Linked DNA regions of Homo sapiens: region 2 is linked to region 1. Evidence: fine-mapped expression QTL. A gene starts in region 1. The other region holds a variant in brackets. All regions are shown on one strand. Distances are between the middles of the regions. Region 1 holds the start of MRPS35 (mitochondrial ribosomal protein S35). Region 2 overlaps PPFIBP1 (PPFIB scaffold protein 1).

Evidence for each region. PIP is the estimated chance that this variant, and not a neighbour inherited with it, causes the effect.
Region 2: its variant is fine-mapped to the expression of MRPS35 in fibroblasts (GTEx, PIP above 0.99).

What each region holds. Positions count from the first base shown.
Region 1 is chr12:27,706,274-27,715,914 of GRCh38, reverse strand. It overlaps MRPS35 (mitochondrial ribosomal protein S35), which reads right to left and starts at 5,083. Exons shown (of 8, transcript NM_021821.4): 1 at 4,960-5,083; 2 at 1,095-1,135. The coding sequence starts at 5,071. It overlaps MRPS35-DT (MRPS35 divergent transcript), which reads left to right and starts at 5,168. Exons shown (of 5, transcript XR_001749448.2): 1 at 5,168-5,252. RefSeq lists enhancers at 4,663-5,452, 5,463-5,542, 5,573-5,652.
Region 2 is chr12:27,678,554-27,688,194 of GRCh38, reverse strand. PPFIBP1 (PPFIB scaffold protein 1) reads right to left here. Exons shown (of 30, transcript NM_003622.4): 20 at 8,556-8,706; 21 at 8,134-8,262; 22 at 6,499-6,649; 23 at 5,697-5,808; 24 at 5,492-5,580; 25 at 688-810. Among named protein-coding and RNA genes, the nearest start is that of REP15, 13 kb to the left of the region's middle. The variant G/A (reference allele first, on the strand shown) is at 4,839.

The sequences.
Region 1 (9,641 bases):
GCGTTAAGTACTTGGAAGTAAAAAGAAAAGGAAAAAATAATTAGGGTTAAACTGATTGAATAAATATATAATGAAAAATTATATGTCTCCTAGGCCCAGAGAAAAACTAGTACTTGATAGCTTAGTCAATCACATTAACATTTATTTTTAATGGCATCAAATACGAGGGGATGGCCCACATACAAAAGTAGGGTTTATAGTGGCAAAATTCAGCCATGCCCCGCCTACGCAATATCAAAACCAGTGTAGTCAATATCCTAGAAGCAGGTAATAGTCCTGAGGAAATGACTGCTCTTAATGATTGTAATTTGATACCATTTAACTTCCAACTAATGTGTCTTTGTTCTGACACTATTGCTCACCAACTGACCTTATCGTTTAGATTCCTCCATAGAAGTAAGGAATCCAAATGTCCACAGGGTGAGACTCAACTAGTTAGAATACGGCCAGGTGCCGTGGCTCATGCCTGTAATCCCAGCACTTTGGGAGGCCAGGTGCAGTAGCTCACGCCTGTAATCCCAGCACTGAGGCGGGTGGATCACCTGAGGTCAGGAATTCAAGACCAGCCTGACCAACATGGTGAAAACCTCTCTCTACTAAAAACACAAAAAATTAGCCAGGCATGGAGGTGTGTGCCTGTAGTCCCAGCTACTTGGGAGGCTGAGGCAGGAGAACCACTTGAACCCGGGAGGCAGAGGTACCAGTGAGCCAAGACTGCACCACTGCACTCCAGCTGGGCAACAAGTGGGAAACTCTATCTCAAATAAATAATAATAAATAAATAAACAAACTAGTTATATTAATGCATAAGTCCCAGGCTGCAGGACTTAAGATAGCATTAGAAATTGTTCCATATTCTGGTTTATACACCTGTTTCCTGGGAGTTCCTCAGTAAGTCAACCTCTCAAAGATCATCTATTCTCTGGGTACTGACAAAAAACAAAGACTAACCTCTGCCAGGGCTATGGCAATCACCCAGTAAACATGACCTTGTGAAGTCTTCTCTGGTAACACCCTTCTGCCTTATAATGAATATCTGCCTCATTTTAGAACTCCAGAAACCATTAAGATAGTAGAGTATACGAACTTTTTACCTTTCTTCTTGGTGGCCTTTCATTTCCGGGTGTTCTTTCCGCTGTACGTAAAAGATAACACAGTAGTTAAAGAGAATTTTATCATGTCAAGTTAGTTGTTCAACATCAATCATGATCCCATTATTCTAACACAATTTAAGGTATTTAGTAACATAACAATGAAACAATCTTTTTTTTTTTTTTTTTGGTAAGCTCAGGGACCAAAATCATCTTAATGAAGACTAAAAACTGGAAACAGAGGGAGTCTCGGCGTATCACCCAGATTGGATTGCAGTGGTGTGATCTCGGCTCACTGCAACCTCTACCTCCGGAGTTCAAGTGATTCTCCTGCCTCAGCCTCCCAAGTAGCTGCGACTACCAGTACACCCCACCACACCTGGCTAATTTTTGTATTTTTAGTAGAGATAGAGTTTCACCATGTTGGCCAGGCTGGTCTCAAACTGCTGACCTGAAGTGATCCGCCTGCCTCAGTCTCCCAAAGTGCGGTGGGCAGGTGTGAGCCACTGTGCCTAGCCCCAGTAAGGAAAATTCTACAGTTATTTGAATTGCAGATACAGTGAATTCATTATCTAAAAAATGACTCTTACAGAGTCTGTCAAGTAAGACAACTTTTTAACAAATAATTTCAATAAACAGTGATAAATATTATGAACACATATAGCAGGGAACGAAACCTAGTCAATTAGTTTGTATGACGGTGAATTTTTTCTTTTTTCTCTTTCTTTCTTTTTTTTTTTTTTTTTTTGAGACAAGGTCATCTCACTCTCGCCCAGGCTGGATTGCAGTGGTGCAATCTCGGCTTACTGCAGCCTCGAACTACCAGGTTCAAGCCAATCCTTCTACCTCAGCACCCCAAGTAGCTAGGACTAAAGACATGAGCACACCCGGCTAATTCTTGTAGAGACGGTGTTTCGCCATGTTGCCAGGCTGGTCTCAAGCTCTTGAGCTCCAGCGATCCACCCACCTCAGCCTCCCAAAGTGCTGGGATTACAGGGGTGAGTCACTGTGCCCAGCCATGATAGTTAACTTTGTGTCAATTTGACTGGATTGAGGAATACATAGACATGTGGTAAAGCATTATTTCTGGGCATGTCTGTGGGGATGTTTCCAGGAGAGACAGGCATTTGAGTCAGTGGACTGAGTGAGGAATACCTGCTCTCAATGTGGGTGGGCATCATCCAATCAGCTGAGGGCACAGAAAGAACAAAAAGGCAGATGAAAGAAGAATATATTCTCTCTCTCTCTCTTCTGGACCTGGGACACTCTTCCCCTGCCCTTGGACATCAGAACTCCAGGTGCTCCAGCCTTTGGACTCCAGGAACTTGTACACGCAGCCCCCTGAGTTCTTAGGCCTTCAGCCTTGGCCTGAAAATTACATGGCTTCTGTGGTTCTGAGGTTTCTGAACTTGGACTGACATGGGCTTCCAGCTTGCAGACAGCCTATTGTGGGGTGAGTCAATTCCCCTAAAAAATCCCATCATATGTCTATATATCTACATCTACATCTATCCTATCCTACATCTACGTTCTGTCTCTCTGGAAAACTCTAATCAGTTGGGGAAAATCTCCCTGAGAAAGTGAACTTTAAGCTAAAACCTGAAAGATGAGCAGGACGTAGCCATGAAGACAAGCAGGTGAGAAAAAGTGTTTTGACAGAGTGAGAGCACATGGAAAATCAAAGTGAACAAATTCAATATGGCTGAAATTTAAGAACAGAACAGAGAGAGACAGAGAGAAAAGAGGCTGAAGGCACTTAACAGGCGTCTTAACTATAATGCATCCTTAGCAGAACTTTTTTTCTTTTGAGATAGGGTCTCACTCCCGTCACCCAGGCCGGAGGGCAGTGGTGCGATTACGGCTCACTGTAATCGACTTCCCAGGCTCAGGTGATTCTCCCACTTCAGCCTCTGGAGTAGCTGGAACTACAGGCATGGGCCACCACGTCTGGCTAATTTCTTGTATTTTCAATAGAGACGAGGTTCCGCCATGTTGCCCAGGCTGGTCTCAAACTCCTGGGCTCAAGGGATCCGCAGGCCTCGACCTCCCACAGTGCTGGGATTACAGGAATGAGCCCCCACACTCAGCCCCTTGGCAGGGCTTTTGATTTTCTTCTTCCAGTCTTCCCAATTCGTGTACATGGAATCATCATTCATCCAATTGCTCAGAACAAAAATGTAACAGGATTTTTTTGAGACTTGTCCTCAAGCCCCACATCAAATCCATCAGTAAATCCTATGAACTTTACCTTCAAAATATATCGCAAATACAACCACACCTCCTTCTCCACTATTACTTTAATCCAAGTCACCATCACCTCATTTGGATTACTGCAACAGCCTCCAAACAGATCTTTGGCTTCCACTCTTACCCCAGTAAAGCAGCCAGTGATCTTTTAAAAACGTAAATCACATTATATCAGTTCCCTGTTCCAAGCCTTTCAATATAAAACCCAAGCCAAAAATCCAAATGAAATGTCTACAAACTCTTGAGAGATCAGATTATTACTTAACTAACTCTCTGACGTCTTATACTACCACTCTCTCCTCTACTCACACTTAGCTCCTGCCACATTGTCCTTCTTCCCGTTCCTTGATCACACCCCTCAGATTGTTCTCAACTTTTGGCCTTTGCACTTATAGTTCCCCATACCCCAAAGGCTCTTTCCCCATATCTCTGCATGGCTTGGGGCCCTGTTCAAATGTCACTTCCTCAGAAAGATCTTTCCTGACCATCCTGTGGCCACTACTCCCCCCAAATCCATCATTCTCAATACTCTACTTTATTTTTCTTCAAAGCATTAAACCCTATCTGACATCTTATTTAGTTGTTTGGTTGTTTATACTATTGACTTCCCCACCTTGCCGTATCTCCGGTGAGTGTCTAGAACACTGCATGGTATACAATAGGAGTTAAGTATTCCAAGAATTTAAGAATGAAAATTTAAAAATAGACAATTATTAGACCTATGAAGAGCCAGTATGAAGGATTAATGTATTTATAGTTTATCTGAAAACAATGGGAAACCATTTGTAGATCTTGAACATGAGAGCAGCAAGACAAGATCTAAATTTTGAAAACCTCATTTGGCTGTTTTGAGAATTCAATGTAGGAGAGCAAGAGGGGAAACAGGAAACGGAAAAAAAACTTGTAGAAATGAGATGGTCACCTGAACTAGATAGTTGGTAGTATGAGGAGAGTAAATTAGAGATATAACAGGAAGTAGCACAGGTAGGATCCGCCTATTGATTAGACTCACGCCAGCTCCTCCTCAACGCTCCCGTCATTCTAGCCACACTTCTATCACAGCGCCTCTCACCCTACATAGCACTTCTCCGCTAATAAATCTGTATTTTCCACTAGAGTCCTCCGGGGTAAGCACGCTATCAAGCATCCCTACAATCTCTGTTAAATGGAGGTCATCAACGCCTGTTGAATGAAGGCCGCCCATTTGGTGGCCTGGAATTCAGAGCAGCAATTTGTCCTAGCACAGCCGTATGACTCTCTTAATGTTTGGGGAAATCCATGGTTCAACAGCGCCGATGCCCGATAAACAACACAGCACCAGTAACCTGTGCCAGGGGCTGTGGACGGGGGCAACACAGGAGCAGGTCACGGGGAAGGGGGATGTAAGCTTTCTGAGCAAACTCCCAGAGCACCCAGGGCAGAAACAGGCGGCTAGAAGCCGGGCAACGCGGGTGCAGAGCACAGACCCACGTCCATGGTTTTCCTACCAGACGGGCCTGGCAGCGGACGCACTGGCCTCCCCCGGGCGGCGCTGGCTCAGCCACCGCGGCACCCTTCATGAGGCCGGTATTCCGCTCTTGCACCTCCCCCAAAGCCCAGAGAAGACGAGACAGACACTCACGCAGGCTAGGTGTCGGGACCGGAGTGGCCGAGTAGACGGCAGTGGAGAATGCACGCAGAGTCCTTGCCCTCGACTGCAGAGACAGCCATGCTGGGAGCGCGGCGGCCGCCATGGCTGCGAGGACGGCAAGCCGGAGGGGACAAGCGGCGTTCAGTGTCAGGGGCGGGCCTGGGGCCGCTAAGCGCAGGCTCCCTGGGCTGGCACCGCCCTAGGCTGGAGAAAGAGGAAACACGTTGGTCTGCGCACTCAGAGCCGAGTCAAATGTGCAGGAAGATTCCCCCAAACTGAAAGAAGTAATGAAAAGAAAACAAAAAAAATCCTTAAAAATCGAGTGAATCAGTTCGTAGAGAATTGCAGATAAAGACCGTAGGGATAGGGGTTGCGGCTCACTGAAGGCGGGCGTGCTCTGGGTGGAACCTCAGTTGATCCGAGAGTCAGGCGGTCTACCCGAGGGACTCTTGTTATTTATAATTGTTGCTTTTCTACATTTACTTGGATTAAAGAAGTCTTCAACTAATGCCAGTAATATGCGCTAAGGGGAGAGAAGCAGTATCCCGAGCCAGAGTGCTTGGGTTTCAAACTTGACTTCACCACTTCTGGGATGTATGATCTCAGACAAGTTAGCATAGACAAATATTTGTGTACAGCGTTGGCATACAGTGAACACCGCGTGTACGTAGCCTATAACTTTTAGCTATATATGGTTAGCTTGTTGTTAGATCAGCTTAGAATTACAGAAAGTCAGAACTCATCAGGACCTAGAAAATAAACTTTTAATGAACACTCTTAAATTTTCTACGGTAGGATGAATTAACATACAAGCCTTAATAAAACAATTCTCGGCCGGACGCGGTGGCTCGCGCCTGTAATCCCAGCACTTTGGGATCCCGAGGCGGGTGGATCACCTGAGGTCAGGAGTTTGGGACCAGCCTGACCAACATGGAGAAACCTGGTCTCTACTAAAAATACAAAATTAGCCGGGTGTGGTGGCACATGCCTGTAATCCCAGCTACTCGAGAGAAGAATCGCATGAACCCGGGAGGCAGAGGTTGCGATGAGCCGAGATCGCGCCATTGCACTCCAGCCTGGGCAATAAAAGCAAAACTCCGCCTCAAAAATAAAATAAAATAAAATAAATTCTCTATTTTCTCTTTATTTTAAAAATTATTTTAATTAATTAATTAATTATTATTATTTTTGAGACAGAGTCTTGCTCTGTTGCTAGGCTGGAATGTGGTAGCAGGACCATGGCCCACTGCAGCCTTGACCTCCCAGGCTCAAGTGATCCTCCTACCTCAGCCTTTCAAGTAGCTGAGGCTACAGGCACGCACCACCACACCCAGCTAATTAAAAAAAAAATTGTTTTTCCAGAGATGAGGTCTCACAGTGTTGCCAGGGCTGGTCTCAAACTCTTGGGTTCAAGCGATCCTCCTGCCTTGGCCTCCCAAAAAAGTGATAGGACTACAGGCGTGAGCTACTGCACCTGGCCTATTTTTTCTATTTTTAAGTTTTTTGTAGAGTTGGGGGTCTTGCTATGTTGTCCAGGCTGGTCCCAAACTCTTGGCTTCATGTGATCCTCCTGCCTTGGCCTCCCAAAATGTCGGGATTACAGGCATGGGTCTGGCCTATTTCCCTATTTTGTCTCAAAGTGACAAAATTATAACAGTAAAAACAACTAAAAATAAACAAAACCGATTCTTGGTAAGCATACAACCAGTAGAGCAGAGGTATGCAGGTGTCCAAGAATATTCTAGCTGTGAACATTCAGTGCGCCATGGACATCAATCAGTAAGGTATGGGAGGGGGACAAATAGCATGAGATGGACAAGTATTTGTAATATTCATCATCTTCATCTTTTCTGGACTTTTACCATCCTGTTATTGTTCCAAAATAGAAGCATGATGTATGAGTTTCCTAGGGGATTGGAACAAAGTACCGTAAACTGGGTGACTTAAAACAACAGAAATTTCCTCTCTCACAATCCTGGAGTCTGGAAAGTCCAAAATCCAGGTGTCGGCAGGGTTGGTTCCTTCTGGAGGTTCTGAGGGAGAATCTGTTCCATGCCTCCCTCCTAGCTTCTAATGGTTGCTGGCACTCCTTGGCTGGTAGACACATCACATCACATCACCTTCTGCCCCCATATTCCAATGGAGTTCTCTCCTCTCCTCGGACTATTTTTAAGATCAAAATCATGGCCTTTTTAATCAGATGGAGGTGAGGTTTGAATCCAGGCTCTGGTTCTTTATGATTTTGGGCAAATCTACCTTATCTTTCTGAGTTTCAGTTTCAAGGAAAATGACAGCAATAATATTTTTCTTACGACAGTCGTGATTAAAGGCATAAATATAAACGGTGGGCATTGGCATTAAGTGTAGGGTCAATGCAACAGCCTCCTTTTCTTGCAAGTTTGTATATTTTAGTAAAGTGCAAGTCCTATACCATAGAAATTTAGGGACAAAAGGAGTATGATCATATTCATACTGTTACCAGCGGCAAATCTGTACAGGTCTGCGGCAACCTCAATTCTTGCCTCCTCAGAAGAAAGAATTTGATCGAGGAACATAAGGCAGAAGGAGAGACAGAAGCGACTTTTAGAGCAGGAGTGAAAGTTTATTAAAAAGCTTCACAGCAGGAACAAAAGGAAGGAAATACACTGGGAAGAGGGCCAAGTGGGCGACTTGAAAGTCAAGTACCCCATTTGACCTTTGACTTAGGGTTTTATACGTTGGCATACTTCTGGGGTCTATGTCCCTTCTCCCCTGATTTTTCCCTTGGGGTGGGCTGTCTGCATGCACAGTGGCTTGCCAGGACTTGGGAGGGGAGCATGCATAGTGTGTTTATTGGAGTCGTATACATGCTTACTTGAGGCATTCTTCCATTAGCAGTTGCACGTCCCTAGAAGATCAAATACCAGTTAAATTCTGCCATTTTGCTTCTTAATGTGCACGCTTGCGCACACTCACCCAGCTCCTGAGATCTTACTGGAAAGTTGCTGATCACTAGTTTCAGGTTTTTTGTATCTATTGGGAGAATGCTATTCCCTGGTGCTGGCTGCAACCAATTATTGTTTTAGAAAGACAGTTAATAACCACCTGACCGTCACCTGATGGTCGCCTGAAATTCCTGGGGTGTGCGTGTGTGTGTGTGGAGGGGGGTGTGTGTATAAGGGGAGCCCTCTCCTGCCCTGCTCATTCATGACTAGCTACCTACTCTAACAATATTTCTTAATTTCTGAGCAAGATATTAAAGACATAGGTCCCCATTCTACCTTGCTATGCGTTCTATCTTTTGTTGTACTCTCTCCCTAAGACTAAAGTGGATAGATGACCAGAGCTAGAGGAGCCAGAAAAATACTTATTGTTTTCCGTGGCATCAAGTACAGTAAGTTTCATTCTATAGTAAAAGTTAAAAATTCATTCATAATGCTATTAATGCTATCAACAAGCAAAAATATCTGTCTTGTGCAGTGTAAAGAGTAAAGCATGTACTATCTTGCACATAGGGGTTACTAAGATTACATAATTTTTCACTTGGCAGTGATCTTAGAGGTGCAATCATTCACTCACGATAAAAATATTTTCTTTGCTGGGTGCAGTGGCTCACTCCTGTACTCTCAACATTTTGGGAGGCTGAGATAGGGGAATCACTTGAGCTCAGGAGTTTAAGCCCAGCCTGGGCAACATAGCAAGAGCCTGTCTCTACAAAAAATACAAAAATTAGCCAGGCATGGTGATGTGTGCCTGTAGTCCCAGCTACTGGGGAGGCTGAGGTGGGAGGATCACTTGAGCCCAGGAGGCAGAGGTTGCAGAAAGCCGAGATAGTGCCACTGCACTCCAGCCTGGGCGACAGAGTGAGACCTGTCTCAAACAAACAAAAAAAATATTTTCTTCAAACTTTGTGACCATGTAATCTAACACATCATAGAAGCTAGGCTGGCTTCATAGACATACAACGTGCCTGCGCTTGGCCTAATGCTTTGCTGTTGCTGTCTTAAAATTCTTAATACTTTTTTTAACAAGGAGTCCTGCATCTTCAGTTTGCACTGGAACCTACAAATTATGTAGCTGGTCCTGTGTAGAACAATTTTAAATATTAAGCTGTCTTACAATTGGTTTTTATTATATTTAAACCTGAATTAATTCAATAAAAGCTACTTTTTAATTTTTTATCTTTATGGATACATAGGAAGTATATATATTTATGGGGTATATGATATATATTGATACAGACATAAAATGTATCATAATCACATCAGGGTAAATGGGGTATCCATCACCTCAAGCGTTTATCCTTTGTATTAAAAAGCTACTTTTAATCAAAACTAACTTCTTTTTTTTTTTTTCTCTTTTTTGAGAAGGAGTCTTGCTCTGTCACCCAGGCTGGAGTGCAGTTGCACAATCTCAGCTCACTGCAACCTCCACCTCCGGGGTCCAAGTCGTTCTCCTGCCTCAGCCTCCCAAGTAGCTGAGATTACAGGCATGTGCCACCATGCCCAACTAATTTTTGTGTTTTTGGTAGAGACAGGGTTTCACCATGTTGGCCAGGCTGGTCTTGAACTCCTGACCTCAAGTGATCCGCCCGCCTCGGCCTCCCAAAGTGCTAGGATTATAGGCGGGAACCACCACACCCGGCCTTCAAAACTAACTTGCTTTATAGTAGGTGAACAAAGTATGTCTATTCA
Region 2 (9,641 bases), 28 kb after region 1:
AGAAAGGGAAAAATTCTCTTTTAAAGAATTTCTGTCATAGTTTGAGTTTCAAGCTTTCTTATATACTAATAAAGCATTGCTTTAGGAAAGGAAGTCTTTTTTTTTTTTAAGACAGGGTCTAATTCTCTTACCCACGCTGGCGTTGCAGTGGTATAATCAGGGCTCACTGCAGCCTCCATCTCCCAGGCTCAGACGGATCCTCCTACCTCAGCCTCCTGAGTAGCTGGGACCACCAGCGTGCACCCACCATGCCTGGCTAATTTATTATTATTTTTGTAGAGACAGGGTCTTCCTATGTTGCCCAGGCTGGTCTTGATCTCCTGGGCTCAAGTGATTCTTCTGCCTTGGCCTCCCAAAGTGCTGGGATTATAGGCATTGGCCACTATACTTGGCCAGAAAAGGAAGTCTTTATAGTGATATTTATCTCTGTTGATTAGAGTCAGGAAAAAAAAATACACCCAAGAAAAGGAAGAAGCATAACTGAAAAAGAACCCTTGGCTTTAGTTACACAAGGGGAACCGTCATGGAGAGAAAAGGAAGGAATACAGAAAAAGCCTAAGAAGTAAATGAGGCTGGATTTTAAGGCTTTTCCTGCAGGCTCCAAGAAAAATGGCTCTTAGTTTCGACACATGGACAGTCCCATGCCTGGGAAGTGCATGCTTATAAACCTCAATCTTAAAACACTACCTCATCAGATGGCCGCCTCCGTAGACAGTTTGGTTCAAAGTTATTGATCCTCAGGACCTGGATGGCCCTTTTGATACTGAGATGGTGTAGCACACTTACAACCTTCAGAGACAGTAAGTCATCCTGCAAAAAAGAACAAAAGGAGGAGCTCACTGTGCTGGCCTGTAGCAGGAGGACTTTCTTAGGGAATCTCAGAAAACTGGAGTAAAAGGAGAAGAGCCCCTCAAACCAATATGCCCCAAGGTCTTGTCAGAACCCACTTTCCCATTTGGAACAAAATCTTCCCCCAAACCCCAGATTAGTATTTTTTGCCAATGAAGCTGACTTCCACCTGTTTCTCTCTCTTCCAGATGCTCTGAGATCTGTAGAACCCCAGGGCTCTGAAAAACACAGTTAGAAAAGCACTTGCTGGGTCACTACAAAAGGTGATCTGCTTTGACTTGATCTGCACATACTACAAACAGGGAATTTATTTGTTTCCTCTTTAGTTTTGAGAACTTTATCGGTGGATAAAGTACTTAGGCTTTGGATAAACTGCCCTCTCTGTTTCCTTTCAGCAGATAGTGAAGAGCGAATGATGCTCATTGGTGAACATGATCAAGAGTTGGCTTTCTTTTTTCATCTTTTTTTTTTTTGGAGAGATAGGATCTCACTATACTGCCCAGGCTATCTCAAACTCCTAGGCTCAAGCAGTCCCCCGGCCTCAGCCGCCCAAAAAGCTGGGATTACAGGCGTGAGGCACCGCTCCTAGCAAGGCTGGGTTTTCTGAACTAAGGCACATCATAATTTTGGGGAAAATCAGAACAGTGCTCTTATTATACTATTCCCTGACCTTAATAATTCTCTAGTTCTAAATTATTTTTTAGTAAGGACCTGTCTGCTATTGAATAGCTCTAGATTATTATGGTTTATCTAGCAGACATTGTGAACAATTTTGGCACAACTATAATCAATCAGTGCAAAGGTTTTGGTCAGAGTCAAGGAGAGAAGAAAAATGAAGTTATAAGTATCACATATATATATTACCAATCAACCCCTTCAAGGAAGAATTTTCACCAGTCTGTGGCTCTTGGGAATATTTTCAAATATACCAAACACACCAAAACAAATTATTTCAGAAGAAGGTGATATTGGGAGCAGTATGAAGATAAGCAACAGTCTACTTCCAAACACACCCAGAAAATAAACAAGGAAAGCATCCATTTTAGACACACCTTTCTGATAAAACACTTCTCATGAAAGAAAGAAAAAAATGTAATCTACTACAGAAATATTTAATAAAAATATTAATCAGTTTAAATCCTTGAGGCTACTAACCAGGCAAAAATTATTTCCTGAAGTTTTTCTGGAGTAATTCCTTAAAAGTAGTGTCTTAAGACATGTTAGAAAGAGTACTTATTTTAATCTAGGATTGAGACACCCATTCCAAACATTTCAGTCTGGACTCTTTTCATCTAACTAGTCTGTCAGCTTAAAAAAATATCTGAATGCACAATGTTTACAGTGTGATTAAAATGTTAATTATTTTTGAAATTCTTTATACTTCGAAGGATTTTAAAAAGAAAGTTTTATTTTATATCAAAACAGACTTTCTGAGTGATTTTCTTCCCAATTTTTTTAAAACTTTTTATTTTAAAATAATTTTAAATTTGTGGAGGAGTTGCCAAAGATAGAATAGAATTCTGTATACCTTTCACTCAGCCTCCTCTAATGTTAACATCTGACATAATCATGATTACATTCATCAAGACTAAGAAATTAATGTACAATTGACTAAATTGCAGACTTTATTCACATTTCACCAGTTTGTCCAGTAAGGTCCTTCTTCTGTTCCAGGATCTAATCCACATTAAAACACATATTTTGTGACTTAGGATTTCTGGGGTCAAATTTTCCAGGGTCATTTACTCTTTTATAGCCATTTCACAGATGCTTCTTGTGATTTTAAGCTTGAATTTGTTCACATTCTCAGGGGGAACATACTCACACTTAGAGAGGGAGGCAAATATTTACTGAATGTGTTCTAGTCATAATCGTGAGCTATTAAAAGCAGGGATCTTGAAACAGCCTGAGTTCAAACTCTCTATGACTTTCTATTGCTAACTGTGGAAACTTGGTTACCAAGTTACCCAACCTCTCGATTCCTTCCTTTATACATGTAAAAAAGTAGGGATAATAATAGTATTATAATACTATAGATACACAGAGTGTGTGTGTGTGTGTATATGGATACACACACACATATATACAAACATGCATATATGTGTATGTGTGTGTATATATATATATACATACTCTATGTATCTACAGTATTACATATGTGTGTATAATACTATGTATATACAGTATTACATAATTATATAGTATATATGTGAACAAATTCAAGCTTAAAATCACAAGCAGCGTATGTGAAATGGCTATAAAAGAGTAAATGACCCTGGAAAATTTGACCCCAGAAGTCGTAAGTCACAAAATGTGTGTTTTAATGTAGTGTCCTAGATTAGATCCTGGAACAGAAGGAGGACCTTACTGGAAAAACTGGTGAAATGTGAATAGTCTTCAGTTTAGTTGATTGTATTAACATCTACGTTAATTTCTTAATTTTGATGAATGTAATCATGATTACGTAAGATGTTAACGTTAGAGGAAGCTGAGTGAAAGGTATACAGAATTCTAGCTTTGGCAACTCCTCTGTAAATCTAAAATTATCTTAAAATAAAAAGTTTTAAAAACTTTTTAATATATATTATACACACTATAATAATATTAGTAATATTAACTAAAAGGGTTATTGAGAATCCAGTATTAATATGAGCAAAATGCTTAAAAGGATGTTTGACACATAGCAAATGTGCAACATACTACACATATTAGTATTATTTCACGCAGGTTTATGTGATGTGCTCATCAAGGTAAGGGGCTTGGGTTCAATGACAGAGAAGAAAAATCCATGAACTGAACTCCAAATTTTTTTGACATTGAGAAATGCCTACTTAAGTTGGCTGTTTAAAACTTGCTACTTACTTGAAAAAGATTATACTTAGGGTAGTTAGGTCTATAGCCTACTTCACAAAAAGCTGTTTAAATAAAAGAATTTTAGGCCGGGCACAGTGGCTCACGCCTGTAATCCCAGCACTTTGGGAGGCCGAGGCAGGTGGATCTCCTGAGGTCAGAAGTTCCAGACCAGCCTGGCCAACATGGCGAAACTCCATCTCCACCAAAAACACAAAAATTAGCCAGGAGCAGTGGTGTGCACCTGTAATCCCAGCTACTCGGGTGGCTGAGGCAGGAGAATCACTTGAACCTGGGAGGTGGAGGTTGCCATGAGCCAAGATTGTGCCACTGCGCTCCAGCCTGGGCAGCAGAGTGAGACTCTGTCTCCAAAATAAATAAATAAATAAAAGAATTTTAAGTAGAACAAGGCCAGGCTCGGTGGCTCACGCCTGTAATCCCAGCACTTTGGGAGGCCAAGGTGGGTGGATAACGAGGTCAGGAGATCGAGACCATCCTGGCTAACATGGTGAAACCCCGTCTCTATTAAAAATACAAAAAATTAGCCAGGCATGGTGGCAGGTGCCTGTAGTCCCAGCTACTTGGGAGGCTGAGGCAGGAGAATGGCATGAACCCAGGAGAGGGAGGTTGCAGTGAGCCGAGATCGCACCACTGCACTCCAGCCTGGGCGACAGAGCGAGACTCCGTCTCAAAATAAAATAAAATAAAATAAAAATAAAAATAAAAATAAATAAATAAAGAGAATTTTAAGTAGAACATTAATAGTGGTATGGAACCTAAAACAAAGTTCTCCTGGAATCCATCTTTCTCACTGCTGTAAAGCAGGGAATAGTCCTACACATTGGCTGGAGGGCTAGAAATGTACAATAATGAAGGAACCAGAGTAGAAGTCTAGCCTTCCTCCCTCCTCCTTTAACCCCAGTAACTCCTGCTGTAGCAGAACTAGGCTGAAGTGAGACGGGTGATAGGGTTTCAGGTAACAGTTGTCCAGAGTGGAAAGGAGAAGACAAGTCCTTGAAGATGTCAGGTCAAAAGGGTGGCCTCTTCCAAATGGTCATTGCACATAGAAACCCATAACTTAGAGATAGCTTGGGCTTAAAAATTCTACATTCTATTTAAAAAATATCTTTAGGCTGGGC[G/A]TGTTGACTCATGCCTATAATTCCAGCACTTTGGGAGGCCGAGGCAGGCAGGTCGCTTGAGGTCAGGAGTTTGAGACCAGCTGGCCAACATGGCGAAACTCCGTCTCTACTAAAAATACAAAAAAATTAGCTGGGTATGGTGGCGTGAGCCTGTAATCCCAGCTACTCGGGAGGCTGAGGCAGGAGAATGGCTTGAACCTGGGAGGTAGAGGTTACAGTGAGCTGAGATCACGTCATTGCACTCCAGCCTGGGTGACAGAGCGAGACTCCATCTCAAAAGAAATAATACAAAAAAAATCTTTATGAGATATAATTTGCATACCATAAAATGTACCCATTCAAAGTGTACACTTCAGTGTTTACTTTGTTGAATGTATTACATATAAAATCAACCTTCTGGAGAGCTTAGTTTAAATTAGGCTTCACTTAGCTTACATTGGGGTTTCAAATTATCCCAAGCCTGTTCAATCACAATCACCAAATGCTACAACTTCAGCCTCATGGGAAATATGCCTGCCACTCTCCTCAAGTTCAAGCAACAGCTTCAAACTCTGGTGGAATCACTGAAAACACTGTGTTTGGCTTACTCAATTCCTGTGTTTTTCAGAGAAAAAAAGTTTTCCTCCCCCAAACCCCAGGAGTGAGTCACTTACAACAGTCATGTAATGTAGCATTCGACCATCAACCCGTCCTTCATCAAACTGGGTCTTATATTGAGGGAGGCCAATGTCATCCAACCATCCTAAAAGAGAGAGGCCAGTGTTGCTACCATGCCACAAAACATCTGTTCTTGTGATTAAAAAGAAAAAGCAACTATGTATATAATTATTTCATTTTGTTAGAATAAAAACTTCTTACTAGTGACCCAGTTGAAATCCAGCTTCCCATGATTGGTTTCTTCTTCAGATCCCAGGGCTTGGAGTGCTAGCTGGAGTTTCTTTCGATGAAGTGAATGCTTGATTCCAAGTTCCTGAAACAATAAACATTGACTTTATAATTCTATCTGTATAGGCTGGGTGCCACTGGCAAAGGATGCAAATTTCTCCAAAATGAAGCTAGCATTAAAGACCCAATTCAATACTGAATTACAATCCCAACTTGGGCTAGTAAAGTGTTGTTGAACAAAAGGTCCCTGAAAAGCCAAGACCACCACAATTATCTTAGGGGTGTGTTAGGCATTCCCTAGTGACTCATTTTCTTTGTAAGCTAGGAACTGTAGCATGCATAAAAAGAATTTGACTCTTATTTTGTACAAAATATTAAATAATTTGGAAGAAATGTTAAATAATTAGACACAAATTGTAGGGTGCTTTTTTTTTTTCTTTTGCAAAGTGAAGTTAATTGCATATCTTACACTGAGAAAAACAGGCCAATGATAAAGCCAAACAATGATTTCGAGAAATATGAACTGAATTATGCTTATGTAATTCTTTTTCATTAAAATGCCCAATGGCTTAAGTGTTCCATAAGGAATCATCAAGACCAGGTCCTCCCAAGACCACCAGAAAAAAGAAGCATGAAGCAATTGAAAACCCAAACTTTTGTTTACAGAGTTTTTACTGGCTTCACTCATGGCCCTTTCTGGACTATAAAACAACCCTACATTCATACTGTTTTCTTCTCAGTATCCATTGTGTGAACAAAACAGAGAAGCAGTCACCTTCTCTAGATCTTGTTGAGAAGCCTGCAAAAGCGTTTGGCCAGATGCAATCCAGTGCTTGCCAGAATTCAGGTACGAGCCCAAGCCCTGTTCCATCAGCCAATTGCAAACCTGCTCCTTGGTCCACTTGGCAAATGGCATATCCAAGTCACTACAGGAAAATGAGTAATTGCATGAAAAATAATCCAAAGCCAATCCTGTGGCTTATCATTAGTTTTAAACAACTATACATTCAATAGACATGGAAATTCCCTGGTGATACACATTTGACCATGAAAAGCTTAATTTTTAGTATACATTGGAGGAACAACTGGTTGAAAGTTATCTTCTAAGACCACTGTCTTCATTTCAAATGAAACCACAAAAGATTTAACGTGATAGAGCAAGAACAAGTGCTACAGAAAAAGACCAAATTGGACAAACACAAGTCACTGTATCAGTTTTAACCAATGTTGTTTGAAGATTGGATTCCCAAACAGGAAACTCAGTTGGACTGAAAGAAACTTAAGTCTAATTTGAACTAACTTTAGCAGAATTATGGTTTCTTTCCATATGGTAACCAATGAGAAGAGGGCAATATGTTGTCACTGAGTGTAGGAAACAATCAAAGCAAAATTCCTGTTTTCTTTTACTTAGATACACAAATAGTGTTCTTGTTCCGGGGTGGGGGCAGGGTGCGGAGGGGAAGATGAATGGTTTTTTTTAAATAGTACAAGGAGCTCTACTGTGTTCAAAGACAACATATGGCAAATGAAACTGTTTGGTATTTGAAGAAGGCCAAAGAGAGTTTCCTCCTTGATGTAACCTATGTCCAGTGTTCCACCTGTATGGGAGGGGCTATATGTAAAGGGTTTCTAGTCAGTCTATTATACTGTTAAAAGATTTGGTATCAATGTCTTGTACTTTATGTTTGCCAACCCCACCCTCTTATGCACAGTGAGTCAATGTAGTAGTTCTAAGCCAGCCCTAAACTTTGGTTAAGAGTGTCAGAGCAGTTCTTAGAATCTTAATGGATAAAATATTATATAGTCCTGATAAATACAAGGATTCTGATAGCATTTTTGTCTTTAAGTGCTTTCATAGATTCTGTTACATGCTAATGTTTCTTGAGTAGTTATTATCTGCCAAATATTTAACACATATTAACTTATTTAACCTTCATGGTCAGCTTTTGGGGTAGGTACTAATTATGATGATGAGGAGACTGAGGCACAGGGTGTGGAAGCTGTTGCTCAAGGTCACCCAGCTGGTAGAAAGTGGTAAGGCCAGAAAGCAAATCCAAGTGGTCTGATTCTAGAACATACTCTTAACCACTATGCTATCCCATCTTTCCAAAGTTATGCTTTAGAGTACTTGTAATTACCATCTACGTAAAATTTAAGTCTGAGAGCCATTCTAACACAGATGCTGCTGACACTTTAGCTCTGGCCTCTCCCCTAGTTCGCACAGCCCTCACCTTCTGTTTGTTCATCAACCATTGACAAATTGCACGGCTCTAAAGATGATGGCCCCTTTCATTAGGCACAGCATTAAGCAATGACTTTGTTTAACCCAATGACAGTACTAATACTGCAGGACTCATGAGGCTATGATGCTTGGTAGAGATGCAAAAGTCTATCAGTTGGCTCTTCTTACCTGTTAGACTGTCCCAAGTCTCGAGACCAACCTAATCGGGGCCCCGCGGTTGCCCTTGTCCCTCCTCTTTTGAATTCAGGCTCAGACATGTCATCTGGGTTGAATGTAGTTGATTGACTTCTCCTAAGTCTAAAGAAGACAACACACATGGCCAGTATTAGACCTGAGGAGGCCTTAGACTTGTTAATCAGAACATTTTTAACTAGTGCACCTACTGGAACTAATCCTCTTTGTGTTGTTAACATAGACATTTAAATTTAAACTTTAACTAAGACCCAATGAGTTAATAAATCCCACATCACAATCCAAACTTCCTTCCATAAGAGGAATACAAAGGCCTTACAAAGTCCATACCCATGTCCAGCCACTTTTAAGCAACATGTAAGACAGGGCCCATTCCACTTGTTTACTGCTTTACTTACTTTCCAAAGAGTTTCATGATACCTCTGGATTTCTTTTTGGAATCTGGAGATGGAGGCGGTATCTGGAAGGGACTGTTCCTCTGTGAATCTTTTGGCCGAGAAGAAGCACCAGCCAGATCTAGGTGCTCTGCTGTCTCTTTTTCTGTTTCAGCTACTCCAAGAGCAGAATGCAGACAATGAATTTTAAAATATGGAATAAACATGATGTTAATCTTCTTGGTTCTAGAACTGTTAAGAATTCTTCTGTTGGTCTATAATCAGTGACTTACAAAGAGCACCTTGTAAATATTAGAAATGGAACACACATATACGTTCTGCTCCATAGTTTACTGTGTGTAAACTTAATAAAATTACAAGCCCTTTGGAGATTAAAAGAATGTGATAGGATTGCCACATTCTTTCCTTGAGTGATTTCAATTCATAATGGAATTATTCCCAATCTTTCCATAGCACGTGGTACTGTTGATTACCTGCTACATCCTTCAAAATCATCTCCTTTTGCTTCTTGACATGACCACTCTCCTACATCTGTCATCTGATAGTGTCTTTGCTGTAGCACCCCTGCTTTTTTTTCTTCCCCCATGCCACTTTAAGATTATATTCTAAATGCCCTCTAGAGGATCAGAATCTCTGGGCCTAATCTCTCTCTCTAGGCTCTGTATCTAAATGCCTGTGATATTCCCAATTCAGTGTGTCGGGACATCTGGGACTTCACAAACTCATCCAATTTCCCCGAGAGTCTTTTTCTCTCTTAAATGTTTTTTTTTTTTTTTTTTTTTTTTTGAGACAGAGTCTCACTCTGTTTCCCAGGCTGGAGTGCAGTGACATGATCTCGGCTTACTGCAACCTCCGCCTACTGGGTTCAAGCAATTCTCTGCCTCAGTGTCCCAGGTAGCTGGGATTACAGGCACCCGCCACCACACCTGGCTAATTTTTGTATTTTTAGTAGAGACAGGGTTTCACCATCTTGGCCAGGCTGGTCTTGAACTCCTGACCTCGTGATCCACCCACCTCGGCCTCCCAAAGTGCTGAGATTACAGGCGTGAGCCACCACGCCTGGCCTCGTCTCTTAAATGTTCTTATTTG